Homo sapiens: one gene and its partners. The protein of the gene in region 4 purifies or fractionates together with the protein of the main gene of each other region. This does not show direct contact. Each region holds a gene or a part of one and is shown on either strand. Other genes may lie near its edges. The genes, in order: AGPAT3, ALG3, FITM2 and GPR52.

The links.
Region 1: the proteins of GPR52 (region 4) and AGPAT3 purify together in Homo sapiens (affinity purification with mass spectrometry; 3 studies listed by BioGRID and IntAct, with this or other methods). This does not show direct contact.
Region 2: the proteins of GPR52 (region 4) and ALG3 purify together in Homo sapiens (affinity purification with mass spectrometry; 2 studies listed by BioGRID and IntAct, with this or other methods). This does not show direct contact.
Region 3: the proteins of GPR52 (region 4) and FITM2 purify together in Homo sapiens (affinity purification with mass spectrometry; 3 studies listed by BioGRID and IntAct, with this or other methods). This does not show direct contact.

The regions. Positions count from the first base shown.
Region 1 is NC_000021.9:43,959,213-43,966,237, reverse strand, and holds part of AGPAT3 (1-acyl-sn-glycerol-3-phosphate acyltransferase gamma), read right to left. Parts: intron 6,605-7,025; coding exon of another isoform or gene 6,557-6,604; coding exon 6,379-6,556; intron 5,607-6,378; exon of another isoform or gene 5,459-5,606; intron 1-5,458. UniProt on the Homo sapiens protein: Converts 1-acyl-sn-glycerol-3-phosphate (lysophosphatidic acid or LPA) into 1,2-diacyl-sn-glycerol-3-phosphate (phosphatidic acid or PA) by incorporating an acyl moiety at the sn-2 position of the glycerol backbone.
Region 2 is NC_000003.12:184,245,957-184,253,257, forward strand, and holds the start of ALG3 (dol-P-Man:Man(5)GlcNAc(2)-PP-Dol alpha-1,3-mannosyltransferase), read right to left. Parts: upstream 3,007-7,301; 5' UTR 2,985-3,006; coding exon 2,789-2,984; intron 1-2,788. Other genes in the region: EEF1AKMT4-ECE2 readthrough transcript protein, read left to right, coding at 3,739-3,934; EEF1AKMT4 (EEF1A lysine methyltransferase 4), read left to right, coding at 3,739-3,934. UniProt on the Homo sapiens protein: Dol-P-Man:Man(5)GlcNAc(2)-PP-Dol alpha-1,3-mannosyltransferase that operates in the biosynthetic pathway of dolichol-linked oligosaccharides, the glycan precursors employed in protein asparagine (N)-glycosylation.
Region 3 is NC_000020.11:44,308,187-44,315,597, reverse strand, and holds the start of FITM2 (acyl-coenzyme A diphosphatase FITM2), read left to right. Parts: upstream 1-4,395; 5' UTR 4,396-4,449; coding exon 4,450-4,622; intron 4,623-7,411. UniProt on the Homo sapiens protein: Fatty acyl-coenzyme A (CoA) diphosphatase that hydrolyzes fatty acyl-CoA to yield acyl-4'-phosphopantetheine and adenosine 3',5'-bisphosphate.
Region 4 is NC_000001.11:174,443,695-174,450,064, reverse strand, and holds GPR52 (G-protein coupled receptor 52), read right to left. Parts: upstream 2,102-6,370; 5' UTR 1,954-2,101; coding exon 868-1,953; 3' UTR 520-867; downstream 1-519.

The DNA of each region.
Region 1 (7,025 bases), on a different chromosome or scaffold from region 4:
AAAGACGAGCTGCGCTGTCTGGAGAATGGTCCCATCCAAAGGTCACCTGTGGCAAGCCCAGGGACATGTGGCACTTTTCCCTTGCTGTCGGCATGCAAAGGCAGCCTTCAGCGGATCTCAGGACCCCTCGGCTGACGCTGGCTAACTGCAGACAGCTGTCAGGGCAGGCATCTGTAAACTGTCTTGCAGGGTGGGCGGCGCCTGGGCCCGATATGAAATTCCTTTTATCATTTCCTTCACTCAAATACATGCTTCCCTAAAGCACAATGAGTAAGCCAGCCATAGCCTATTTTTCAACCACGGATTTAAAAAAATCTAAAATTCTGGACGGGTGCGGTGGCTCAAGCCTGTAATCCCAGCACTTTGGGAGGCCGAGACAGGAGGATCACTTGAGGCCAGGAGTTCAAGACCAGCTGGGGAAGCATGGCAAAAGCCCATCTCTACTTAAAAATAAAAAAAATTAGCTGGATGTGGTGGCAGGCACCTGTAATCCCAGCTACTTGGGAGGCTGGGGCACGAGAATCACTTGAACCTCAGAAGATGGAGGTTGCAGTGAGCCAAGATCGCACTGCTGTGCTCCAGCCAGGACAACAGAGAGACTCTGTCTCAAAACAACAACAACAACAAAAAAAACCTAAAATTCACCCAATAATAGTAACAATTTATCAAGCATTGCTGTGTACCTGCTGTGCGCATTGATTTAGGCTTTATAAGACAGCTCAAAGGCAGGTGGTTTTGTCTGTGCTCTGCAGATGAGAAAGCTGAGGTTTAGAGACTGAAGCCTTGACCAAGGTCAGCAGGGAGTGAGGAGGCTGGGCCAGGTTGTTTAAACGGCTCCAAACCTGCACCCTTCGCCGCAGCACCTATAGCTCTGCACATCAGATGACAGCAGAGACACACTGGCAGTGAGTTCAAAATGGGCAGCAAGAAGGCACCCAGCATTAAGGAATGAGAACAGGAATGAAGAATTGAAAATAAAACCGTGGTTCAGGGTCATCAGAAAACACTGTGGCTGGTGCGGTGGCTCAGCCTGTAATCCCAGCAGCCCAGCAGGCTGAGGCAGGAGGATCACATGAGCCTAGGAGTTGGAGACCAGTCTGGGCAACATGGCAAAACCCTGTCTCTACAAAAAATACAAAAATTAGCTGGGCATGATGGTGCACACCTGTGGTCTCAGCTACTCAAGGAGGCTGAGGTAGGAGGACTGCTTGAGCCCAGGAGGCAGAGATTGCAGTGAGCCAAGATCACACCACTGCACTCCAGCCTGGGCGACAGAGCAAGACCCTGTCTCAAAAACAAACAAACATAAACAAACCCACTGTGAGGTCTGCTCTCACCATGCGCCCCTGAACTGGCAAAGGCTTCCACATACCTCTGACTGCAGAAAGGCTCCCACAAACATATTCATGGAAATAAATCTAAGTGGAGAACATCCCAAATCCAACAAGTCACAGACGGAATTCACATACCCACGCAAGCCCAGCAGATGGAGAGGCCGATTATTTCTGTTCTTACTGAAGTGCTTTTCTTGTGTATTTGTGGTCATCCCAAGTATCTGGGAATTTTATATTGATCTTAATGTATACCTCAATATTTCTTATTTTAATGCTTTTCTTTCTACTTTCTTGCATTAACAAAAGAGATTTACCTTTTTTTCTTTATCTTTTTCTAATACTTTGGAAGCTATGTTTGATCTCTCTTTTTTCCTACCCTATACTTAACAAAGTTACCATTAAAATCTGAACCTGGGCTGGGCGCTCCCGCCTGTAATCCCAGCACTTTGGGAGGCCGAGGTGGGCGGATCACCTGAGGTCAGGAGTTTGAGACCAGTCTGGGCAACATGGTGAAACCCCATCTCTAATAAAAATACAAAACAAAAAATTAGCTGAGCGTGGTGCAGTCTCACCTCACTGCAACCTCCACCTCCCAGGGTCAAGCGATTCTCCTGCCTCTGCCTCCTGAGGAGCTGGGATCACAGGTGCCCACCACCATGCCAGGCTAATTTTTGTATTTTTAGTAGAGATGGGGTTTCACCATGTTGACCAGGCTGGTCTTGAACTCCTGACCTCAGGTGATCCGCCCACCTTGGCCTCCCAAAGTGCTGGGATTACAGGCGTGACCCACTGCGCCCGGCTGAGCACTGTTTTTATTTTACATACGGTTTAGATTCATCCATCTCCTAATTTCTTTGGCTACCATTCTTTCTTGAAAATTATACCCTACTTTTATAATTTTTGTTCTTACTGAAACACATCCTTAAAAAATATTGAAGTGAAGATCTATGGGCAGTAAAAGCTCTCATTTTTTTGTTTACCAAAACCTTTTTATTTTATTTGTACTCTTGAACAACACAGGGTGCTAGGTTGGTGATTTTCCAGCACATTGAGGATCTTCCACCTTCTCCCGCCACTGCTGCCTGCCGTAAGAAATCTGCTGTCGGCCTCACTGCTGACCATCCAGCGTGGTTCTCCAGCTTTCCTCTCCGGGGATTCGAAGACTTCCTTATCTTTTTTTTTTTTTTTTTTTTTTTGAGACAGAGTCTCACTCTGTCACCCAGGCTGGAGTGCAGTGATGCAGTCTCGGCTCACTGCAACCTCCACCGACCAGGTTCAAATGATTCCCCTGCCTCAGCCACCCCAGTAGCTGGGATTAGACATGTGCCACCAGGCCCAGCTAATTTTTATATTTTTAGTAGAGATGGGGTTTCACCATGTTGGCCAGGCTGGTCTCAAACTCCTGACCTCAGGGGATCCTCCTGCCTCAGCTTCCTGGAATGCTGGGATTAGAGGCGTGAGCCACCGCGCCCGGCTCCTCCTTGTCTCTGATGGTCTGTGATGCCCCAGGGCCTGCCTAGGTGTGGATTTCTGTGCATTCGCTCTGCTTGGTCTACATGTGCTTCCTGTATCTGAAAAATCGTGCCTTCATCAGTTCAGGAGGTCCTCAGGCATCCTCTCTTCCCAGGAGGCTTCTCCTGTTCTCTCCTTTGGGGATGGGGGCCAAAGCCCTATTTTATGAAGGTTCTCATTCTGTCCTTACATCTTTTCACGCCTATTTCACATTTTTCACCTCCTTTACTGTCACTGGATGATTTCTTCACATTGATGTCTGGTGTACCCATTCTCTCATTAACTGTGTCTAATCTGATACAAAATCCATCCATACGGTTTTGCTTTAAAATATCTACAGTTTTCACTGAGAGCAGTTCTACTTGGTTCTGTACCCATTCTCATTAACTGTATCTAATCTGATACAAAACCTGTCTGTAAGTTTTTGCTTTAAAATATCTACAGTTCTCACTGAGAGCAGTTCTACTTGGTTCTCTTTCAAGTCGGGGCACAGTGGGTCATCTTCAGTCCACATCTGCTGTTTACGTTGTCATTCTTGATTATGAATTCATATTTAATTTTCCTTAATCTGTGGGATTCTTCAGGCCTGAATGAGACTTTCTCCAGAGTGTACTTTCGTTTGCCTCTGCTGAAACCCAAGGGTCACTGTTAACCCTAGCTTGTCTCGCGCCCTCGCTCAAGAGTCCTGGTTTAGCTTCAGCGCCCTCTGCTACAGCTGCCCAAGGGTTAGGCTCCTGAAAGGCAGTGCTGACATTCCATTTCTGCACACCCCGGTTTTTGCTAAAGGGATTTGGTGGAAGGGTGGAGCTGAGAGGTTTTTGTTTCCTTACTGTGAGCCCAGAAATGCATTAAAAAGCCAGTTTCAGGCAGGATTTAGCTGTTTTGTAGTATTTTAGCTTCAGAATACTGCTAGAAAGTAGGAGTCTGTAATTTAGTTTTCATCAGTTAATATTTGCCCTTTTTGTATGTATTCATCTTATCCAGTTATACTCATGAATAACTCATTTGTATATTTTATATTATAGGATTTCCAATTCTCCCTTCCCACAGAAAAAAGCAGCAGCCTTTCATTTAAAAAAGGAAACAAACTGGCCGGGCGCGGTGGCTCACGCCTGTAATCCCAGCACTTTCGGAGGCCGAGGTGGGCAGATCACGAGGTCAGGAGATCAAAACCATCCTGGCTAACACAGTGAAACCCCGTCTCTACTAAAAATACAAAAAAAATTAGCCAGGAGTGGTGGCGGGTGCCTGTAGTCCCAGCTACTCGGGAGGCTGAGGCAGGAGAATGGCGTGAACCCAGGAGGCAGAGCTTGCAGTGAGCCGAGATCGCACCACTGCACTCCAGCCTGGGCAACAGAGCGAGACTCAGTCTCAAAAAAAAAAAAAAAGAGAAAAAACAAACCAGGAACTGAAGCTATAACACATTTAAGACAAGCTAGTCTAAGGGCTGGGTTACTAGTCTCTCTGCAGACAGTGGGGTGTCGCAGGCATGAAAAGTTAGCTGACATAAACAGCCTTTTCAGCAGTGCTACCGGCTCCTGAACTGGAAGGAGATCGTGCAGACAAGGTTACAGGCCAGCCATTTCCCATATGAGACAAAGTGTCTATGCGCTCACCATTTCCTACATGAGACAAAGTGTATACGCGCTCACCGTTTTCCATATGAGACAAAGTGTATGTGGGTTCACCATTTCCCACATGAGACAAAGTATCTATGCGCTCACCATTTCCCACATGAGACAAAGCGTATACGCGCTCACCGTTTCCCATATGAGACAAAGTGTATGTGGGTTCACCATTTCCCACGAGACAAAGTGTCTACGCGCTCACTGTTTTCCATATGAGACAAAGTGTATACGCGCTCACCGTTTCCCACGAGACAAAGTGTCTACGCGTTCACTGTTTTCCATATGAGACAAAGTGTCTACGTGCTCACCCTTTCCCACATGAGACAAAGTGTCTATGCGCTCACCGTTTCCCATATGAGACAAAGTGTATGTGGGTTCACCATTTCTCACGTGAGACAAAGTGTCTACGCGCTTACCGTTTCCCACGAGACAAAGTGTCTATGCGCTCACCGTTTCCCATATGAGACGAAGTGTCTATGCGCTCATGCAAAAACATGGAAACAGCATGAGAGTGTGAAATAAAACGTAAGAATCCCCTCCTTTCCCCACTCCCTGGATATCAGCATCACGCAGTTTTCTCGGGCATCCTTCTGAGATTTTTGTTTTCTTTTTTTTTTTTTTTAGACAGAGTCTTGCTCTGTTGCCCAGGCTGGAGTGGTGCAGTGGTGTGATCTCAGCTCACTGCAGCCTCCACCTCCCAGGTTCAAGCAGTTCTCCTGCCTCAGCCTCCCGAGTAGCTGGGATTACAGGTGTGTACCACCATGCTCAGCTAATTTTGTATTTTTAGTAGAGACAGGGTTTCACCATGTTGCTCAGGCTGGCCTTGAACTCCTGACCTCAGGTGATCCACCTGCCTCAGCCTCTCAAAGTGCTGGGATTACAGGCATGAGCCACCATGCCCAGCCCCTTCTGGGATTTTTCCACACATGTACACACCACACACACAGCATCCTTTCTTAAGACACAAAATGAATCATAGCATACTATGGACTTTGTTGTATACTTCCTTTTTCGCTTAAAACTGTACGGGCAAGATGAAGGCTCTCCATGATGGCCGCAGAGGGTCCCTGTATGGGTGCCGCATAATTAGTCTCCAGTGACAGGTGCTTGGGTTGCTTCTAGTTTTGTGCTACTATAAAAATAATACAATAATGAGAATACCTGTGATAAAATGAGAACACCTGTCCAGTTGCATACTTTTGCACATCTCTGTAGGTTGCATGTTATTCTGTGGAATTGCTGAGTTGAAAATTGCAACCACTTAAACTGTTGACGGCCACTGCCAAACCACCCTCCAGAGATGCGCCTGTTCATGTCCCCACGACGCCCGGTGTGAGCGGTTACCTGTCCACAGTGGGTGTTGTTACCAAGCCTCTGAGTCTCTGTCCACATGACAGGTACAGATCGGTTTCTCTATGTATAATACACATACGCACAGAGGCACATACGGACAGACACACAGCTACACATGTGTTTGATACGCAGGGAGGCAGGACACCTTTTCTTTCAGGGATGCATGCTGAAATACGCGTCAGCATGCTCTGGTGTTGGCGCAGTGTGGGCAGGACACACGAGGGGCCATGTAGGGAGCTGTTGGAGCTTGGTAACGGGTAAACAGAACTCAACATTCTCTTTACTTTTGTTTAAACATTCCCATATGCTCTGGTAAACCGTGGGAAGCTGCCATTGCTATGGGTCAGAATGGTGAGAGTGGCACGTCACACAGCTCAAGCTAAGAAAAAGAGGTAGCCAGGTGCCTTCCGACAGCCTGCCAGCCAGATGGCCTCGGCACCTCCTGCATAGCCCTCACTTCCTGCCTGAGAGCCCACGGCTGCCCCGTGCATGGTCGCGCGCCACCCCCACGGGAGCCCCAGGCGGCAGGGACTGGCCCAGCAGACACTCACGGCTCCAGAGTGAGTAGGCGAGGCGGCAGTTGAGGCGGCGGTAGAGCTGCTTGCTGACCGGCCAGAGCGCCAGCGTGCACAGCTGGACGAAGTTGATGACCAGACCACTCACCACGAAGACAAAGCCGACCAGCAGGTGCAGCACGAACTGGGTCTTCAGGAAGGCCAGCAGGCCCATGGCGCTGCTCAGGAGCGGGTGCACGGCCCCTCGCTGAGGACAGCCGTCCTGCAAAGACAGGGACAGGGACAGCGTCAGGGTGGCCACGCCCACACCCTCACAGGAACACCGGGGCACTGCTCACTGCACACCCCGCACATGCCTCACGCTTATACACACATGCTGCACAGCACACTGCAAACCCCACACACGTGCCACACACATACAAACCACACACATGCCACACACACCACACTGCAAACCACACACACGCCACACACCACAAACCACACACACACCACTGCAAACCACACGTCACACACACACCACAAACCACACATGCCACACACATACCACACACACGCCACACACACACAACCACACACACGCCACACACCACAGCTCATCACAAACCCCACACATGCCACACACATGCCACACACACCGCAAACCACACACCACACACACACCACATCACAAACCCCACATG
Region 2 (7,301 bases), on a different chromosome or scaffold from region 4:
CTCTGGGTGAGCCCAGGCATCTCAAACTCAACATTTCTATAAGTGAATTTGTGATCTTTCTTCCCATTCCAATCTACTCCTTTTCCTGGGTTCCGCAAATGGCACCACCGACCTCTTAGCTACCAGGTCACGAACCTGAGTAACATCTTTGATACTCCCTCCTCTCTCATTTGCAACCCTTCGTCAACAAGTTCTGCCTGTTCCTCACCGTAAATATCTCTATCTCATCCTTCTCTGCTACTACATACTCAAATTTGAGCCTAAAGTAATCTCTAGCCCCAATGAGTATACAATAGCCTGCTAATTAGGCTCCTGACTTCTACTTTCACCCTGCTACAATATATTTTCCACCTCGTACACCAAAGAGCTCCTCCTAAAATACAAATCATAACAGGCCTCTGCTTAAAACCTCTCAATGATTCCCCAAGACCCTTAAGATAAAGAAAACTCTGTATTATTCCCATTTTTTGAAGGGGAGCCTAAGAATTAATTAGGTTAAGTGACTGGCTTAAGATAATTGAGCTAGGATGGTGGAGTTGGGATTGAAGCTTGCAGGGTCCCAAGTTCTTAATTATCATGCTATCTTCTTAACAAAGCTTTCAAATTCCTTCATGATCTGGCCTCAGTTTCTGCATTCCCATCTCTTACTACTCCCTTCACTTGATTTCTACACTCTAGCTCTAAAAAAATCATTTCAGTTCCTCAAAGGAACCAGGCTGTCTTCTTTTTTTTTTTTTTTTGACAGAGTCTCACTCTGTCACCCAGACTGGAGTGCAGTGGTACGATCTCAGCTCACTGCAACCTCCGCCTCCCGGGTTCAAGTGATTCTCCTGCCTCAGTCTCCCGAGTAGCTGGGACTACAGGTGTGTGCCACCATGCTTGGCTAATTTTTTAAGTTTTGTATTTTTAGTAGAGATGGGGTTTCACCGTGTTGGCCAGGCTGGTTTGTTTGTTTGTTTTTCTTTTGAGACAGGGTCTCGCTCAGCCACCCAGGCTGGAGTGCAGTGGTGCGATCTCAGCTCACTGCAACCACCATCTCCCCGGTTCGAGCCATTTTCCCATCTCAGCCTCCCAAGTAGCTGGGATTACAGGCACTTGCCATCATGCCCAGCTAATTTTTCTATTTTAGTAGAGACAGGGTGTCAACATATTGGCCAGGCTGGTGTTGAACTCCTGACCTCAGGTGATCTGCCCGCCTCGGGCTCCCAAAGTGCTAGAATTACAGGCATAAGCCACCGTGCCCAGCCAGGCTGGTCTTTAACTCCTGCCCCCAAGTGATCCGCCCACCTCAGCCTCCCAAAGTGCTGGGATTACAGGCATGAGCCACCGTGCCCAGTCTAACTGAATTTTTTTTTTTTTTGACACGGAGCTTGCTCTGTCACCCAGGCTGGAGTACAGTGGCGCAATCTCGGCTCACTGCAACCTCCACCTCCCGGGTTCAAGCAATTCTCCTGTCTCAACCTCCCGAGTAGCTGGGATTACAGGCATATGCCACCACGCCCAGCTAATTTTTGTATTTTTAGTAGAGACAGGATTTCATCATGTTGGCCAGGCTGGTCTCAAATTCCTGACCTCAGGAGATCCACCCGCCTAGGCCTACCAAAGTGCTGGGATTACAGGCGTGTGCCGCTGCGCCCAGCCTAGCTGGAGATTTTTAATAGAGGATCCTCTGTCCACAGCACTCCTTCCCCTCACCTTTTTCTTCTTTCCTTAAATAGCTAATTCCTACCTTCCAAGGGTGGCTCTATGAAGCCTTTGCTGACTCCTCCAACCTGGTTTAAGTGACTTCCTATGCCCTTTATGGTATCCTGTGTTACTACTACCATGATTATGATGCATTATAATTGCCTGCTAACTTACTGTCCAGGCCCGAGTTAGAAATGCATCCTTTTTCTTTTTTTTTTTTTGAGACGGAGTCTTGCTCTGTCGCCCAGGCTGGAGTGCAGTGGCGTGATCTCGGCTCACTGAAAGCTCTGCCTCCCGGGTTCACGCCATTCTCCTGCCTCAGCCTCCCGAGTAGCTGGGACTACAGGCGCCCGCCACCATGCCCGGCTAAATTCTTTTTTTTTTTTTTTTTTCAGTAGAGACGGGGTTTCACCGTGTTAGCCAGGATGGCCTCGATCTCCTGACCTCGTGATCCGCCCGCCTCGGCCTCCCAAAGTGCTGGGATTACAGGCGTGAGCCACCGCGCCCGGCAGAAATGCATCTCTTATTCACCACTGTACCTCTCTCTGGTAACCAGCATAATGCTAGGCATATAATAAGCACTAAATAAATATTTGTTGAATTAAGAGTCTTTAGCAAGAAAGCCAAGTGCCTTAAGCCTAGAGTATAGTTTCAGCCTGGAAAGGAGTAGCCAATAATGCCTAATGGACTCAAGTGGTCACAAGATGCCATCATTGAGAAGGGACGTTCAAAGATCACAGAACTGAACACATGGAAAAAGCTGAGATCCAGGAGGAGACCTGAGGTGTCCAAAGCCACAGAGAAAAGCAGCAGCAGCAGCAGTACAACAATTTTGGCTCAAATCTGACTTCTAAGCTGGTTTGCAGGCTGTAAGTTCAGTGCAGAAGGCCAATCTCTAGGGTATCCACCTCTGCCATGCGGGCAGATTAAGATCCGGTTTTCTGTAGAGCAGGCTTGGCGCTCAGGTAAGGGATATGGATGGGTTCGCAATTGACGAGTGAGTGGATACAGAGTCTGGTTTGGAGTTCCAGGTCTGAGATCCAGTTTGGGTCGCGGGTTCAGGTCTCCCTCCCTCCCCTCCCCTCCCCCTCGGCGCACTCACATGCCACCCTGTGAATGACCCAGAAGGTGATGCCCACCTCCGCCAGGCAGAGGCAGGCGGCCACCAGCAGCGTGTAGCGCGGCTCCCGCAGCAGCAGGCGCCGCTCTTGCCAGGCGCGCTGCAGCCATTGCTTGCAGAGTCCCTCTGCCTGGGCCGCGGAACCGGACCGGCCGCGTTTCCGCAGCCCAGCCGCCATCTTAACGGTGCGCCGCTTGTGTGGGCCCACCACCCCCGGAAACCCGAACCTTCGACACTTAGGTTCCGCTTCCCGTGCCTGGCGTCCCACCAGGCTAAGCGCCGATCCGAGTAGCCAGTCTTCATTTACTCCACTAAAATGTAATTTTTCTGCATTTGTCTCCTCTGATGCACTCCACGCTCCATAGGAGCAGGGACAATGTCTTACTCCTCAGTTTATACCCAGCCCTGGGTACACAGGCGCTAATTTAGAACGAATGTCCAGAAAAGCAACATTCCTGCCTACCTCCCCCACAACCGCTGAAGCCAGCATTCTCCTTCGCCTGCGCTGGGAACATCTGTGTTCATGCTGTCTCTCCAGGAGGGCAAAGCCCCTGTTCGCGCCCCTCCTGCCTGCCCTTCGAGCCTTCCGGATGCTGAGAAAAATGAACCTTTCACTAATTTTCAGATTTCCTGATAAAAGTCATTCATATTGAAAATATGAGAGGACGCAGTGATGAGCCCACGTGAGTCTGACACCTTGAGTGCGGCCCTAGGAAATGACTTGGCAGTACAGCCGGAGGATTCAGGGTCTGGACGATAGTTTTCCCAGCCGGAGGATTCTTCGAAGAGCGCTTAGTAAAGGACGGAAGTTCCACGTGTTTGTGTTGAGCAACTGCAGGTGGTGGGCGGAGACACCAGCGCCCCGCCTTCTGCATCCTGCCTTCCGTATTGGCTGAAGGGCCGGCGGCTCTGGCTGCCCGGCGGTTGAGAGCATGGCCTCTCCAGGGGCAGGTAGGGCGCCTCCGGAGTTACCGGAGCGGAACTGCGGGTACCGCGAAGTCGAGTACTGGGATCAGCGCTACCAAGGCGCAGCCGATTCTGCCCCCTACGATTGGTTCGGGGACTTCTCCTCCTTCCGTGCCCTCCTAGAGCCGGAGCTGCGGCCCGAGGACCGTATCCTTGTGCTAGGTGGGTAATCCCGGCGCGGCCCCGCCAGGTAGAGCTGGCAGGACCGGCGCCGCATGGGCTTGGCCTGGTCCGCTTTCCTCCCGCCTGTCTATCCCTCTTGGAGGACGCCTGCGTTGGGACGCGAGATCCAGCTCCTTCAGAGTCCCGGCTGTATTTAGTCAAGGCTAACAGGAGTAAGAGATTGTTGGTCCCGGGGCCCTCTGGAGAAAGACAGTCCCTCAGAGTTTGAGCGTTGGGGGTACCCAAGACCCTGTCCGGACCCTCGGGAGGCAGGCAGCCTTGGGGACCGGATTGCTCAGAGGACCGAGATCAAGTCCTAGCGCTAATTGACTTGTAAAACTTAGGACAAGTCATGAACCCGTTCTGAGCTTTAGATTCAGTTCTAGAAATGGTACTGCGAGTTCACATCGGAGGCGGCACGCGCAGGCACCTCGAGAATAATGCCCAGCGCTTTTCTTTTTGCCCCTGGGCACTGGGAGCCAGAGTCACCTAGAGAGAGTCCTGTCTGAAACTTGGTCCTATGCCTTAGAGAGTGAGAACAGCACCCTCTAGGGGTGGAGGGGAGATTGCCGCCCAGGGTGATACGATTCCCCAAAGGGAGACGTGCTGGAGGAAAGGTAGGGCTCTGGGGTGTTCGGCTGACCTCTTGAGGTTCTCTCCTAGTGTCAGCCTTGGAGGCGCTAGTAAAGTTTGAATGAGCAACAGATTTTCTTCCAATTGTCGTTTTTACTTTGCTCTTTGTAAAAGCCTTTGTATGTTTAAGTGAAGTCTTTAATAAATAAAAAAGGTATATGTAATATATATGTAAGGTATAAATAACAAATCTAATGTGTGTGTCTATTCCACTCAGTTTGAGAAATAGAACATTACTAGGGATAGAAAAAAAAGTATAATTTAGTGGTTAATAACTTGGCTGGGCGCGGTGGCTCACGCCATTAATCCCAGCACTTTGGGAGGCCAAGGCGGGCGGATCACCTGAGGTCGGGAGTTCGAGATCAGCCTGACCAACATGGAGAAACCCCATCTCTACTAAAAATACAAAAAATTAGTCGGGTGTGGTGGCGCATGCCTATAATCCCAACTACTTGGGAGGCTGAGGCAGGAAAATCGCTTGAACCAGGGAGGCGGAGGTTGTGGTGAGCCAAGATCATGCCATTGCACTCCAGCCTGTGCAAGAAGAGCAAAACTCTGTCTCAAAAAAAAAAAAAAAAAAAGAAAAGAACTTGGACTCTGGGCTGGCCTCATGATTCATGCTCATAATCCCAGCACTTTGGGAGGCCAAGGTGGAAGGATCACTTGATCGCAGGAGCTCAAGACCAGCCTGGGCAACATAGTGAGATCCCATCTCTACAAAAAATTTAGGCCAGAGCAGTGGCTTATGCTTGTAATCACAACACTTTGGGAGACCAAGGCGGGTGGATCATTTGAGGTCAGGAGTTCAAGACAAGCCTGGCCAACATGGTGAAACCCCGTCTCTACTAAAAATACAAAAATCAGCCAGGTGTGGTGGCACGTGCCTGTAATCCCAGGTACTTGGGAGGCTGAGGCAGGAGAATCACTTGAGCCCAGGAGGTGGAGGTTGCAGTGAGCTGAGATTGCACCACTCCACTCCAGCCTGGGTGACAGAGTAAGACCCTGTCTCAAAAAAAAAAAAAATTAAAACTTAGCTGGGCATGGTGGCCTGTGCCCATAGTCCGAGTTACTCAAGAGGCTGAGGCAGGAGGATCGTTTGAGCCAGGAGATCCAGGCTGCAGTGAGCTGTGATGGCTCCAATGGGCTCCAGCCTAGGCGACAGAATGAGACCCTGTCTCAAAACAAAGCAAAACAAAAAACAAACAAACAAAAAACCACCTTGGACTCCAGAGGCAGTGAATTATGTTGGAATCTTGGCTCGGCTTATACTGGCTGTGTAATCCTGGACAAAATACTTGAATTTCTGTGCTTCCATTTTCTCAACCTTAAAAACATAAGCATATTTATTAATTGGGCTTTAAGTTGATTAAATGAGCATGAAGGATACCTAGAACAATGCCTGGCAAAATGAAAAGTATATTCAAGGTTCTCTGTGTGGTCCTCCTAAAACCCCTTCTCCCCACAAGTAAACACTTTCTTGAATCTGTGATTTTAAACCATTGCACTTATTTATAGATTTACCTTAGATCTGTTTTCTCAAGCTTTAGTGTGTATCAAAATTACCTGGGGAACTAGACTGCACTGTGAGATTCTAATTCCAGGGATGGTCTAATGTGGGTCTCAGGAATCTGTATGTTCAACAAGCTTCACAGCAGATTCTTATGCTGGTGATTGGCAGAGTAACACTGCCTTAAAATCTGCTTGACTGGTTTTTCACCAAACTGATGCTTTAAAAAAAATCTGCTTAACTGGGAACTATCCTTTTCTGGATAGGAGGGGCAAGAAGTCTAAAAATCAAAAGGGGAATTTCTAGAATCCCCAAGATGTAAGAACAGGACCCACAACTTGGGAAATACTCTACGTTACATTCCACCTCAACAGACTTAAGTTGAGTGCCTGATAAGAGCCAGAGAATGTGCTGGGCCCTTTCTAACTTACTTAATCCTTATGACAACCCCTGAAGACAAGTCAAAAGTACTAAGAGACTTACTCCAGGTTAGGGGTCTGTAAACTTTGTTTGAAAATGGCCAAACAAGTAAATTTTTTAGGCTTTGCAGGCTACACAGTCTCTTTTACAATGACTTGGTTCCGCTATTGTAGTGGAAAAGCAGCTACAGACAATACAAAAGTGAATGATGGCCGGGCAGGGTGGCTCACGCCTGTAATCCCACCACTTTGGGAGGCCGAGGCGGGCGGGTCACCTGAGGTCAGGAGTTCGAGAGCAGCCTGGCCAGCATGGTGAAACCCCGTCTCTACTAAAAACATAAAAATCAGCCAGGTGTGGTGGCAGGCACCTGTAATCCCAGCTACTCCAGAGGCTGAGGCAAGAGAATTAATTGCTTGAACCAGGGAGGCGGAGGTTGCAGTGAGCCAAGATTTCACCACTGCACTCCAGCCTGGGTGACAGGGTGAAACTCCATCTCAAAAAAAAAAAAAAAAAAAAAAAAAGTGAATGAGAATAGCCATGTTTCAATATAACTTTATCTAACAAAATAGGTGGCAAGCTGCATTTGGCAACCCCTGCACTCATTGTCTTAGATTGAGTTCCCCAGAAGCAAATCCTGAGATGAGGATTCATGTCCAAGTTACTTGTCAAGAATGTGCTCCCAGGAGAATTGGTAAGAGCTAGAGGGAACAGAGAAAGGGAAGAAGCAAAGTTTCCCTGAAGGTAGTTTCAGCCTGAAGAGTCACAGATGTACACCATTAGAAGCAAACACACACCAAAACCCAGGGA
Region 3 (7,411 bases), on a different chromosome or scaffold from region 4:
AAATGTTTCTTAATGTGTAGCACATTATTTACAAATAATAAAATATATGGCCAGGCTTGGTGGCTTACACCTGTAATCCCAGCACTTTAGGAGGTTGAGATGTGCAGATTGCTTGAGCCCAGGAGTTTGAGACCAGCCTGGGCAACATGGCAAAACCACATCTGTACCAAAAAATGTACAAAAATTAGCTAGAGGTGATGGCTGATTTAGTCCGCCTGTAGTCCCAGCTACTCGGGATGCTGAGGTGGGAGGATCACTTGAGCCCAGGAGATTAAGGCTGCAGTGAGCCATAATCACACCACTGCACTCCAGCCTGGGCAACAGAGTGAGAACTTGTCTTAAAAAAAAAAAAAAGAAAGAAAGAAAAGAAATATATAAATACTCTTTGTTATAACTATAGCTAATTGATTCTCACAGAATGCTTTTATTGATTTTTGTTGGATTCTTGTAACCATAGGCAACCTGTGGTTTCAATTCAACCATGTTTTGACAAATGGAGTTGACTCTCAATGTAGACAAACCAAATAAATCCCTGATTTGTAGCACCTGCCAATTTCCATAGTGTAAATACTCCCCCTGTGGCTGATTTCAAGCTCTCAATGTGACATCACTGAATAGATTTGGGAAGAGTTGTGCAGGAGCTTACCATACAGGAACAATAGATGTAAGTTACCCCAAGAGCATAGATAATAATAAAACATAGTAAAATAATTAGTAACTAATGAGTTTTGAGTATTTTCAGTTTGTTTTTTTATATATGTAACTTTTTTTTTTTTTGAGAGAGGATTTTGCTCTGTTACTCAGGCTGGAGAGCAGTGGCATGATCACAGCTTACTGCAGCCTCAGTCTCCTGGGCTCAAGCCATCCTCCCACCTCAGCCTCCTGAGTAGCTGGGACTGCAGGCACACACCACCATGTTTGGCTAATTTTCGTATTTTTTGTAGAGATGGGATCTCCCTATGTTACCCAGGCTGGTCTGGAACTCCTGGGCTTAAGCGATTCACCTGTCTTGGCCTCCCAAAGTGCTGGGATTACAGGGGTGAGCCAACAGGCCCAGGCCCTATAATGCAGTTCTTAATATGGCTGTGTTTGACAATCACCCCGCAAAAGTTCTGAAAATTTAATCATCAGCTCTTGCAGGCTGGTATGAGTTGACTACAGCACATCATTTCACTCACAACATAAATATGTATTTCCCAATACTGATTCAATTTTTTTTTAAATACAAAAACTTCTCTAGAGACCTGCAACAATTTTTTCAGGTTGAGTTTAACCCAGTCTTCAAAAATCTCCAGCCATGGTGGCCAAGCGTGGTGGCTCATGCCTGTAATCCCAGCACTTTGGATGCTGAGGCAGGAGGATTGCTTGAGGCCAGGAGTTCAAGGCTACAGTGAGCTATGATCGCACCACTGCCCTCCAGCCTGGGAGTGCAGAGCAAGATCCTGTCTCAAAAAAAAAAAAAAAAAGAAAAAGAAAAAAAGAAAAGAGAAAATGGAAGGAAGGAAGGAAGGGAGGGAGGGAAAGAAAACTCTCCAGGAATGAAACTGCAGTTTCAAAGGAAACAAACCCATTTCCTTTCTCAAAAATACAAATCCTGAACCTTTCAGAAGGTACTCTTTGGACAGTCCCTCGGGGTGATATTTAGTGTTTATATTCACCGAGCAGTCTTTCCCTCCTTCTTGGGTTGGGGGACGTATCTGGATTTTCTTTGGAGGAACCACACAGCTAATAAGGAGGAGAACCGGCACTCAAACCCAGCATCCCTGCTCTTAATTCTTATGCTGTTTGCTAAGGAAAGCCACAGTAATTGAGCACCTGACAAACTCAAGGAGACAGAGATGGTATCAGATACTATTTACAAGCTGCCTTCATAAATAACCCCTTTCTGGCTATGTAGTTTTTATTCCCAATCATGAAATGCCAAATTGGTATAATTATCACTATATTTTATTTTTTAAACCAAGCATTCTGAAGGCCTGGAAGCATCTTGCTATATAAGAACTCTAATCAGATAAATGCAATTTACAGATATGAAGGTCATCTTAAGATGGTTTTAAGGAATTATTATTTTCATTAATTTGTTGATTCTCTGCATGAGACTATAAACATTAGTCCATTGTAGGCATAAATCAGGCTAACATTTCCCAGTGTGGTAGCTGTCCTTGGTATAGAGACACAAAATTATTTTGGGCAGCTAGTGATGATGAATATTTCGATAGAAATTTTTCTTTGGGCCGGGTGTGGTGGCTCACGCCTGTAATCCCAGCACTTTGAGAGGCAGAGGCAGGAAGATCACTTGAGGCTAGGAGTTGGAGACCAGCCTGGTCAACATGGCGAAACCCTGTCTAAAAATACAAAAAAATTAGCCAGGTGTGGTGGCATGTGCCTGTAGTCCCAGCTGCTTGGGAGGGTGAGGCAGGAGACTACCTTGAACCCGGGAGGCAGAGGTTACAGTGAGCCAAGATCAAAATAGCTTGGCCTCCCAAAGTGCTGGGATTACAGGCGTGAGCCACCACGTCTGGCCTAAAATGCCCATCTCTTGATATGACTATATATGTGTGTATTGGCTGGGTTTGTGGCTTTTGGAATAAACTTCTGTTGTTTAAAACAAGTTTAGGGTTGGGCACGGTGGCTCGCACCTGTAATCCTAGCACTTTGGGAGGCCGAGGCAGGAGGATCACTGGAGCCCAGGCGTTCGAGATCAACCTGGGCAACATAGTGAGACCCCATCTCTATTTAAAACTAAAGAAAAAAAAAGGAATAAAAATAAACTGAGTTTATAGTAATTTATTAGAGCTGCCACAGGAAACTAACATTGGGGTAAGGGAATGAGTCCAAGGTTGGGAACTGAAATAGACACCCAGCCCTAACCAGGGGTGAGGGGTTAGTTTTGTGATAAACTGAGCAACTGAGTCTCCAACAACTTCATGTGATCTCCCCATTAACCCCCAGCATCCAGCATTTTCATCCAACAGGCATAGATAGCTGTTTTGTGTTTCTTTGTGTGCTTTTTAAGACGGTCTCGCTCCGTGGCCCAGGCTGGAGTGCAATGGGACCATCACAGCTCACTGCAACCTCAAATTCCTGGGCTCAAGCAATCCTCCCACCTCAGCCTCCTGAGTAGCTGGGACCACAGGCCTGAGCCACCAAGTCAGCTAGTTTTTAAAATTATTTCTTATAGATACTGAGTCTCACTGTGTTGCCCAGGTGAAAATAAATTTAGAAATTTAAACTTTAAATGTAATAATTGCACCAGGTGAGATGGCTCACTCCTGTAATCTCAGCACTTTGGGAGGTGAAGGCTGGCAGATCACTTGAGGTTAAGATTTGGAGAGGTCAGATCACTTGAGGACAGGAGTTGGTCAGCCTGGCCGACATGGTGAAACCCCATCTCTACTAAAAATACAAAAATTAGCTGGGTGTGGTGGTGCGTGCCTGTAATCCCAGCTACTCGGGAGGCTGAGGCAGGAGAATCGCTTGAACCTGGGAGGCAGAGGCCTGCAGTGAGCTGAGATCGCGCCACTGCATTCCAGCCTGGGCAACAGAGCGAGACTATGTCTCTAAATAAATTAATTATATTAATTAATTAATTTAATAACTGCAGAGCGTGGTGGCTCACACTTGTAATTGCAGCATTTTAGGAAGCCGAGGCAGGAGGATCGCTTGAGCCCAGGAGTTTGAGACCAGCCTCGACAACGAAGCAAAACCCTGTCTCTACAGAAATAAAAATAAAAAAAATTAGCCAGGTGTGGTGGTGCCCGCCTGTGGTCCCAGCTACTCGGGAGGCTGAGGTGGGAGTATTGCTTGAGACCAGAAATTTGAGGTTGCGGTGAGCTGCGACGGTGCCATTGCACTCCAGCCTGGGCGACAGAGAGGGACCCCCCCCCAACTAACTAATAAATAAATAAATACAATAATTATTCCTAAGGAAACTTCATCTCATGTCCCTCTACGTGTGCCAACGTAATGAACCCCTGAGCTCATAAACTAGCTTTTGGGAAAGGTTGATCTCCTCTTGTCTCTCGCATTTTACAGATGAGAAAACTAAGACTCAGATGGCAGAGGTGTCTCCGAGGCTCCAAGAAAGATCAAATGATGCTGTGACTACTGCTCCAATTCTCCAGGGCTACATTTATCCTCTTCCAGCCTCCAGCAAATACTTTCACAAGCGCTTTTTCCCAGACCAGAGCAAGACGCGGAGGCTCGGGGAGAGGAGGCGGCCAGGAGAGCGCAGAGGAGACGAGCGAGTTCGGGGACCGTCACGCGCCAGAGGCAGCAGCGGCCACGAGGGGGAGCGCGCGGGCTCCGGAGCCCAAGCACGCCTCAAGCTGTGGGACTCGCGGGCAGTGCGCATGCGCTCGAAGGGAGGTGGAGGCGCAGGTCCGGGCGAAGGGCGATACGGTGGCCGAGAGGGCACGGAGAGGAGGACGGTGGCTGACGAGATCCGGCATGGAGCATCTGGAGCGCTGCGAGTGGTTGTTGCGGGGGACGCTGGTGCGGGCGGCCGTGCGGCGCTACCTGCCCTGGGCCCTGGTGGCCTCCATGCTGGCGGGCTCCCTCCTCAAGGAGTTGTCCCCGTTGCCCGAGAGCTACCTCAGCAACAAGCGCAACGTCCTCAACGTGTGAGTGCACCCCGGTCCTCCGCTGTCCCCGCCCGAGCCGGCCCGCTGTCGCCTCGCCCAGAGAAGCCGGTGCTAGCTGCCGTGGTGGACGAGTCATTGGAGGGGAGGTCCTCCTCCTAGCCGTGACAGCAGCATCTGCACGCGTGTCACGCCTGGGAGGCCCCGGGGTAGCTGGTGTCACTAGCAGTTAGTGTTTGCAGACCCACTTTGGGCAGCATGAGCTTGACTGGGCAGGTGGTGACAAGCGGGGTCGTGTGTGTCTCTGTATATGTAGGGGTGTGGAATGGGGTGGGGATGAACCAGCCCCTGTCACCACTCCCCCGCCTCCCCTTGGAGTTAGGAGCTGACCCCTGCCCTGTTTGGGAGATGCCATCTCACCTCTGTCCTGCCTGCCTGTGGCAGACCCCGCGCAGACCCCACCCTGCGTCAGATCAGATCCCTCCAGCGCGTGACAGAATCCCTTTACGACCTGTGGAAGAGCCTCGCCCCAGCCTGTGACAGGCAGAGCCCCCGCCTGTGAGATACTCACAGAGGGCTGGAACCCCCTAGTCTGTGCCCTTTCCCCTGGATCTCCTTGGATCATCTCAGCCACTCAGAATGCATGGCAGTGGCCCAGAAAAGCAATCCCAGCTGGGCGCTTTGAGACATCTCCTTAACTCCACCCATCCACTCCTTTGCTTGCTTACTTGCTTTTTTCAAAACTCCCGGTTAGTAAGTTTATTGCACAAAAACTCTGTTGCGGTCATAAAGGGAAACTCTGAAAGATAAAACTGCTCCCTTGATGTGAGCCTAAGTGTTTTCCAGAATAAGTGTCTCTGGCGTGTCCTGAAAGTCAGCCCAACTTTGGTTATCTGCTTAAAACCCTGGTTCCTTTCACAGGCAGCTTCCTCAAATGCCTGACGGGTCTTGGCTCTGGCAAGATCTTCCTTATCAGTCCCAGTGAAGATTTTAGTGACAGGCCTGGGGGTGGTGCCTGAGAATCCATTGGAACCTAGAAAAAAGTCCTTCTGTCCTTGGTCCACCTTCCTTCCTCACCCACCCTGAGAGGCTGGGCTAAGAATAGATCATGAGAGTGGTAGTGGCCCCAAGTCTCTGTCCTGGGTTTAGGTCAGCCACCTTTCGTGAACGCTGGGGAGGCGGACAAGGCAGCTGCTGCTTCCTCTGGCCTAGGTGAGCTGGGAGCCAAGTGGCCTGGCTGACAACACACCCCTGTTGTTTGAAGGTAGTCATGGATCCTGGAGTTTTGTTCCAAGCCTCTGTGCTGATTAATGAGAGGGAACTAGTGAATCCTGGGATATAGAAGGGACCTTAAAAATCATTTGGTCCTCTCAGCTCTGTTTGATAGCTGAAGAAACTGAGGCCTGGAAAGGTAGGAGGTATAGTAAGTTAAGTAAGAGTGAAGATTTGAACCCGTAAGAGTGAAGATTTGAACCCCGGTCTTTTGGCTTAAAGTAAGACCTTGTTGCAAGACTGTTTCTGCCGTTAGGAAAGAACCAGGCTGGGCGCAGTGGCTCACACCTGTAATCCAGGCACTTTGGGAGGCCAAGGCAGGTGGATCACTTGAGGTCAGGAGTTCAAGACCAGCCTGGCCAACGTGGTGAAACCCCATCTCTACTAAAAATACAAAAATTAGCCTGGCGTGGTGGTGCGTGCCTGTAATTCCAACTACTGAGGAGGCTGAGGCAAGAGAATCACTTGAACCTGGGAGGCGGAGGTTGCAGTGAGCTGAGATCATGCCACTGCATTCCAGCCTGGATGGCAGAGTGAGACTTTGTCTCAAAATAAATAAATAAATAAAAATAAAAATACAAAAATTAGCCGAGTGTGGTGGTAGGTGCCTGTAATCCCAGCTACTCCGGAGGCTGAGGCAGGAGAATTGCTTGAACCCGGGAGGCGGAGGTTGCAGTGAGCCGAGATCGTGCCACTGCACTCCTGGGTAATAAGAGTGAAAACTCTGTCTCAAAAAAAAAAAAATCATTTGGTCCCCCCAGCTCTGTTTAATAGCTGAAGAAACTGAGGGCTGGAGAGGTAGGAGGTATAATAAGTTAAGTCAGAGTCAAGAGTTGAACCCGTGTCTTTGGCTTAAAGTAAAGCTCATTGTTGTAAGACTGTTTCTGCCATTAGGAAAGAACCAGGCCAGGTGCATGGCTCATATCTATAATCCCAGCACTTTGGGAGGCTGAGGCAGGATAATTGCTTGAGGCCTGGAGTTCAAGACCAGTGGGGGCAACATAGCAAGGCCCCATCTCCACAAAAATAATAATTAAAAAAAATTAGCCAGGCACATTGGTACACACCTGTAATCCCAGCTATTTGTGAGGCTGAGGCAGGAGGATTGCTTGAGCCCAGGAGTTTGAGGCTGCAGTGAGGTGTGATTGTGCCACTGCACGCAAGCCTGGGGGACAGAGTGAGATCCTGTCTCAGAAAAATAAAAATAAAAAATAAAAAACCACATATGGTATGGGAGAAACAGCATGAGTCTGGGGGCTATCCAAACCGTGGTTTAATCTGTTCATGCTGGTTGTGTGAGTGTGACCCTGGCAAGGTACTGAACTTTTCTGAGCCTTAGATTTCTTGTCTATAAAATGGAACAATGGCACCTTCCTCCCAGGGTAAATGTGAGTGCTCTATGGGAAAGTGAATGTGTGTGAAAGCTCCTGGCATTTGGTAAATGCTCAGTTATTATTATTTATTTATATTATTTTCCTAAGTAAATAACATAGTGCTTAAGACGACAGATCCTGGATTTGAATCCTGGCTCCTCCGCTTCTGGCCTCCACTTTTGGTGT
Region 4 (6,370 bases):
TAAAAATGTTTCCAAAAGCCATTAAAAATATTTAATAAGCTACCAGATTGCTTTGCTGGAAGAAATACATTATTTAACATCATGGATGCTCTATACAGTAGATTCTTTCAATAGCTAAGACACTTCTAAAGTAAGGTACCAATGGATGCAGATCAAGAAAAAGAGAGAAAAAAAACAGGAGACTGTTAGGAAACCAGGGAAAAGCAAATGTCATTTTACCCAGAAGAAACAAAAATACTGTTTCTATTTGTTTATAGCAGAAAAACTGTGCTGCAGAGAACATTATAAAAACACAAGCAAAGGGGTTGTTTGGCAAATAATAAAATGCAATGCTTACTGTGCATCCTCCATGAAGAGATCACTTATGGATTATAGATTAGTGTGATTAAAGGTACACTTTGATGCAAAAGATTATACTTTACCACATATATAATATGTAGCACTTTTCTACAAAGGGCAGTTTATGTAAGTAATAACTTCCACAAAGAGTGAGAGAAACATAGACAAAATGAGAAAGACAGAGGCAGGGTACAGTCAGACAGAAAGACAGAAATGCTGAGCCAAGGGGCTTGCTCATGTCCTGCAGAAGATTTGAGATATTCTTTTTCATCTCAGTGCTTAATTTTTCCTATTACTGCACACTAATACTCACATGCTATAATTATTTCATGAGCTAACCCTCTATACATCCTTCCCTTTAGTTTCTTCCATGAAAAAGAAAAAAAAAGAGAGAAACCTTTAGTCTCATACTTCATTTTACAGTCAACTATTCAAGTAAATATTTCTCTGATGGCAAATTTCCAGATGAATCTAGAATATGATCCAAAACCACTGTCAGATTACATTTGATTTACTATGTAGCTCTCTTCAAATGGAGCAAGAATTAGCCCGTTTCCTAGGTTTGGGTTCTTGTGCTTCCTGATCCTTCACACACATACAGGATGTGCACATTGTCTCAGACAGTCTTCGGAGGCCTAGCCGGAAAACGCTGTTGGAGAGGCTGTATATTACACAGTTACAAAAACTATTACTTATTGCAAGCCAGGTTGTTAAGAAGGACAGAGTTGGATTGTCCAAGACCCGGGAGCTTTCTAGAAGAAAGTAAATTATATAGGGGAGCCACAGCATATAAAATACACTGGTTATCCTAAACAAAACCATGGCGTAGCGACGGTCAGGGCTGTGTCCAGTCTCTCTGGAAGAATCTACCTCATGACTAGGGAATCGGGCTCTTCGGTCATTTATCTCTTTGGTGTGCTGACGGCAAATTTTGAAAATGTGGAAGTAAGTGAAGCAGACAACAAAGGCAGCAGGAGCATAAAGTAAACAAACAATAAAGCCAGTAAAATAGGCACTGGTGAGCCAAGACGTGGCACACCATTCAAAAATGTCACCATGGTAACCAGGTTTCCCCCAGCCAAAAAAGGAAGGCAAGAAAATTAGGCAGGAGTAGATCCAGATCAAAATAATGCAAATTCTCAAGCGACAAGGGGTGACCAGTTGATTGTAGGAAAGAGGCTTGGTTATTGCAAGATAACGATCCACACTGATGCAAGCAAGACATGCCATAGAAACACTTTTTAGAACTGAGATGATATATCCAAAAACCTGGCAAGTCAATGACTCGTGGACACCTGTGGAGTAGTGGAGAAGTGACAGAGTAGGAACCAAGCAGCTAACTCCAACGAAAAGATCAGCATATGCCATCGTCTGAATGAAATAGCTGGTAGTATAATGATGTAACAGTGGAGCACAATGAAAGACAAAGATAACTGTTAGATTCCCAGCAATGATCAGAAATGTCAGCAACACAATAACCACTGTCTCGAAGATGCAGACATCCACCACACTGTAGTGGCCAAATCCAAGTGGGCAGGAGTGACGCTCGGACACATTCACAATGCCACTGCTCATGTTCAGGATCCTCCATTCAGTCCACCTGGATTCATTCATGGCTTGGAAATTTAAAGACACCTGCAGACTTGGCTACAGCAAGCAGATGCCCTGCCCAGCATCTGTTAAACACCGCACATGAGTGTTTCAGAACCTGCTTCAGTAGACAGTGTCAGTGCTTCTGTCACAGCTGAGAGTCCCAGAGAGTGCTCAAGTCTCTTCACCAGCCTCAGTTCAGCAGTGACACACCTCAGCTTTCGGGCGGGGGGGTGGGGGGGGGGCGGTAAGGGGTGGAGAGAAGGGGATAAGCTAGAAAGGAGGTGAAAAGAGGTCACTAATTAGTTTCCTCTGGTGCCCTCAAAGAACTTTTTGCAGACATAAGGCACTTCTAGAGAAAATAGACTTCTTATTATCTTGCACTATGAAAAATTAAATCTGTAAAAAGAAAAAAAATGAATTGCCAAAGGAAGAAAAGCTTCTGTGGGCTGTTCTCCTAAGAGAGGCAGTTTCTTAGGGAGCAACTGGAAAGAATGAGAAAAGAAAAACTCTGAAACTGTCTCAGGCTTCCTGCTTTATCTATGATGAAAAATGCATTCATATTTTAGATTTTAAATAATTTAAGATCTCAAATTTGGTTGAAAAGCTAAGAAAAAGTTCATTGTGGCAAAGAGTGTCTTTGGGCTTAGTTCAGGGATTGATGTTGGGGGGTCAAATTTATAACCTATTTCTCATTTTTCTAAAATCTAAGAAAAACAACTCTATCAAAGTTAATTTGAAAAGATTCATCTCTACATGGGCAGAATAGAGGTAACAAACAGACTCCAGATTGCCCTATAACTCTCATGAGAAAAAAGTATTTTCCAATAGAAAAGAGAATATACAATGAATTAATGAATTAACACCTGGCAAAATGTAATAAACTTCTGAAGTTTTAATTCTGCATGCATTTTTAAAGCATTTAGATGAAAGCAGTTTTAATCCATTACAGTTACTGGTGGTACTAACAGCAACGTAACTTATACCTCTTCCTTTTCAAAATGAATTATTTTTGCTATTAATTTGGCATCTATAACTTAAAATAACATTTGTTATTTCATATACCACCTTCCTTATAATGGAGCATGATAATAAAATATGTAGCTCACAGTTATTTCTCACCTTTGCAACTGTATACCCATATCTCACATATATATGTAAATATAAAGTTAGACAATAAAACTTTCCAATATACTCCGAGCTTATTTGACCAGAAATGCTGCCATTATTTATTACTTAGGTATTTCTAATAGGCTTCATGTTCTATGTTGCTATACCTTTTCTATTTTCAGTAGATGATTTAACACATTAAATCATTACTTCAACTATATCTTCTGAAAGTGGAAAATTACCTTGTTTATTACATTTGCAGTTATGTAGCAGCCATATGTTAAAAAATGCCTCTTCTATTTTTCTGTACTCTATTTTGAGCAAGTGCTCAATTAACACAGGGGCCATTAGGTAGGTTGCAAGATAGTCTTATTTTAAAATACCTCTAAAGTATCAAGATGAACTTTAAATCCTAGAGTTTGAAACATTGCAAGGCTGCCAGGATAGAATCCATCCAAAATGCTTCCAAGGTCATTTTGATATCAGGTTAACATTTGCCAAAGTATTTTTTAAAAGTGAAGTCATTTCAGAGAGTCTCCTGTCATTCTTTGTTATCCTATCTTTTGAAGAAATAACATGCATTAGAAATAACATTTCCTCCAGGAACAATGCAGCAGCTTAACAGAAAGCATTCTTCTGAAAGTTATTTTCTGGTGCACCACCAAGTCATTCAGGCAAGTCCTTCTTCTTTTATAATAGCCATAGGATATTTCTTCTTCTACATTCCTAGTTTCACTTATCACAAAACAGTTCTCTTGTTACAGGAATAAGGTAATGCTTCTCACCTACATTCACTCTTATCAGCTGCTAGGCTGGGCTGCTTGATTCAGAAGTCCGATTTACTGTGATGCAGCTACAAGGATGCTGTCAGTATATTCTTCACAATCTCTCAGCATCAATGACTCCACCTGAGCCCAAGCCCTACTCCTCCTCCTCATCCTGGGCTGATGCAGAAAAACTCACCATCAGAAAGGTGACTCGGCCCTCCTGCCCCAATCAACAGCACAGCCAATGGCTACTGCAGCTGAAACTGTCACTAGGTAACAGTTGCCAGGCACATGCAGGCTTATAGACTTACTCGGCAAGCTCCGATCAAGACTGACAAAAGAAGACAATGGAACTGACCGATCTTTATAATATATTAAGGCATTTATGAACTTCTCAAGGTATTCTCCTTATAGCATTTGTAAAGATTATTTCGTATGGACAAGACAGAAAAAATAAACTGCCATACTCCTGTAAACCCTGTAAAGAAACTACCACAAGGTACTATGACACTAAAAAGTCAGCAGTAATCTAATGCTCATTGGCAGAAAAAACTTATTAATTATTAAAAATTTGCCAAGTCTTCATGAACTAAAGTGATATGACTACTAACTTCTCTCTAAAATATATAGTTACATTTTAATTAACAGAACTTAGAAATCATTTACTAATCTCTCCAATCCCCATCACCCCCACAAAAAATTGCTGAGTTTGATGTATTTAACTGTACAAACAAAGCAATAGAACTAACACTACTGTACCAAAATCTATTCAGAGCAATACTGAAGGTCAAATATGATCTCAAAAGAGCATAGAAATTAGAATAAATAAAAACATTGCTTATCCACTTTTTATCCTAATATGAAAAAAAAGGTCAAATGGTCAAAGAAATTTGTTCTAAGTGCTTGAGCTACACATACCTAAATTAGAACAATGCAAATTAATTTAATCAAATATTTGATGGACATTAAAACATTTCTGATTATTTTGACTTACTACAGACAAACATTCACTATTTTAAACTTCTTAGGGGATCAGCATTTTTCTTAAAAGTGACTTAGAACTAATTTACAAATTATGTCAGAATTAAAATACACCAGGAAAATTAAGATAAAAATGGAAGATAACTAACATTTGTTGAGTATTTTCTATATGCCAAGCATTGTGCTGTGTGCATTATATACTTTTCCTTTATAAAAATCTTAAAACTCTATGAAGTAGGTATCATCATTATCATTTTCCAAATGAAGAAAGCAGATAGTAGAGATAGTAAGTATAACTTGCCTATAATCACAGACTTGTGAAAATGGGACCGAAATAGGTTATTATTATTCTTAAAAGTCCTAAAAAACATAAAAAGATCAACAAAACAAAAACTTGATTTTTTGAAAAGATAAACAAAATCAACAAACCCTTAGCTAGACTAAGCAAAAAAGAAAGAAGACTCAAATAAATAAAATCAAAGATGAAAAGACATTACAATTGACTCCACAGAAATACAAAGGATCATTGGAGACTTGTGAAAAATATATATGCCAACAAACTGGAAAACCTAGAAAAAATGGCTAAATTCCTGGACACATACAATCTACCAAGATTGAACCATGAAGAAATAGAAAATCTGAACAGACTAATAATGAGTAAAGAGATTGAAGCAATAATAAAAAGTCTCCCATCAAAGACATGCCCAGAACTTGATGGCTTCACTGCTGAATTCTACCAAACACTTAAAGAAGAACTAATACCAACTCCACTCAAACTATTCTTAAAAAGTTAAGAGGAGAGAATACTTCCAAACTCATTCTGTGAGGCCAGCACTATCTTGATACCAAAAGCAGACATGGACACATACAACAAAAAAAATTATAGGAGGCCAATATCCCTGAGAAACATAGATGCAAAAATCCTTAACAAAATACTAGCAAACCAAACAACACATTAAAAAGATATGCCATGTTCATGGATTGGAAGAATTAATATTGTTAAAAGGACAATATCACCCAAAGCAACATACAGATTTAATGTAATCCCTTTCAAAATACCAATGACATTCAAATAAATAGAAAAAAAAAACCTAAAATTTGTATGGAACTACAAAAGACCCTGAATAGCTAAGGCAATCCTAAGAAAAAAGAACAAAGCTAGAGGCATCACTCTACCTGACTCCAAATACACTACAAAGTTATAGTAACCAAAACAGCATGATATTGGCATAAAAACACATAGACCAATGGAATAGAACAGAGAAACCAGAAATAAATCTACACATTTATAGTCAACCTAAATTCAGGAAAGGCACCAAGAAAATACACTGTTGAAAAGACAGTGTCTTCCATCAATGCTGCTGGAAAAACTGGATATCCATATGCAGAAAAATAAAACTAGACTCCTATCTCTCACCATATACAAAAATCAAGTCAAAGTTGATTAAAAACTTAAAGGTAAGACCTGAAACTATGCAGCTAATACAAGAAAACACTGGGAAATGCTTCAGGACATTGGTTTTGGCAAAGACTACTTGAGTAAGACCTCAAAAGCACAGGCAACAAAACAAAAATAGACAAAC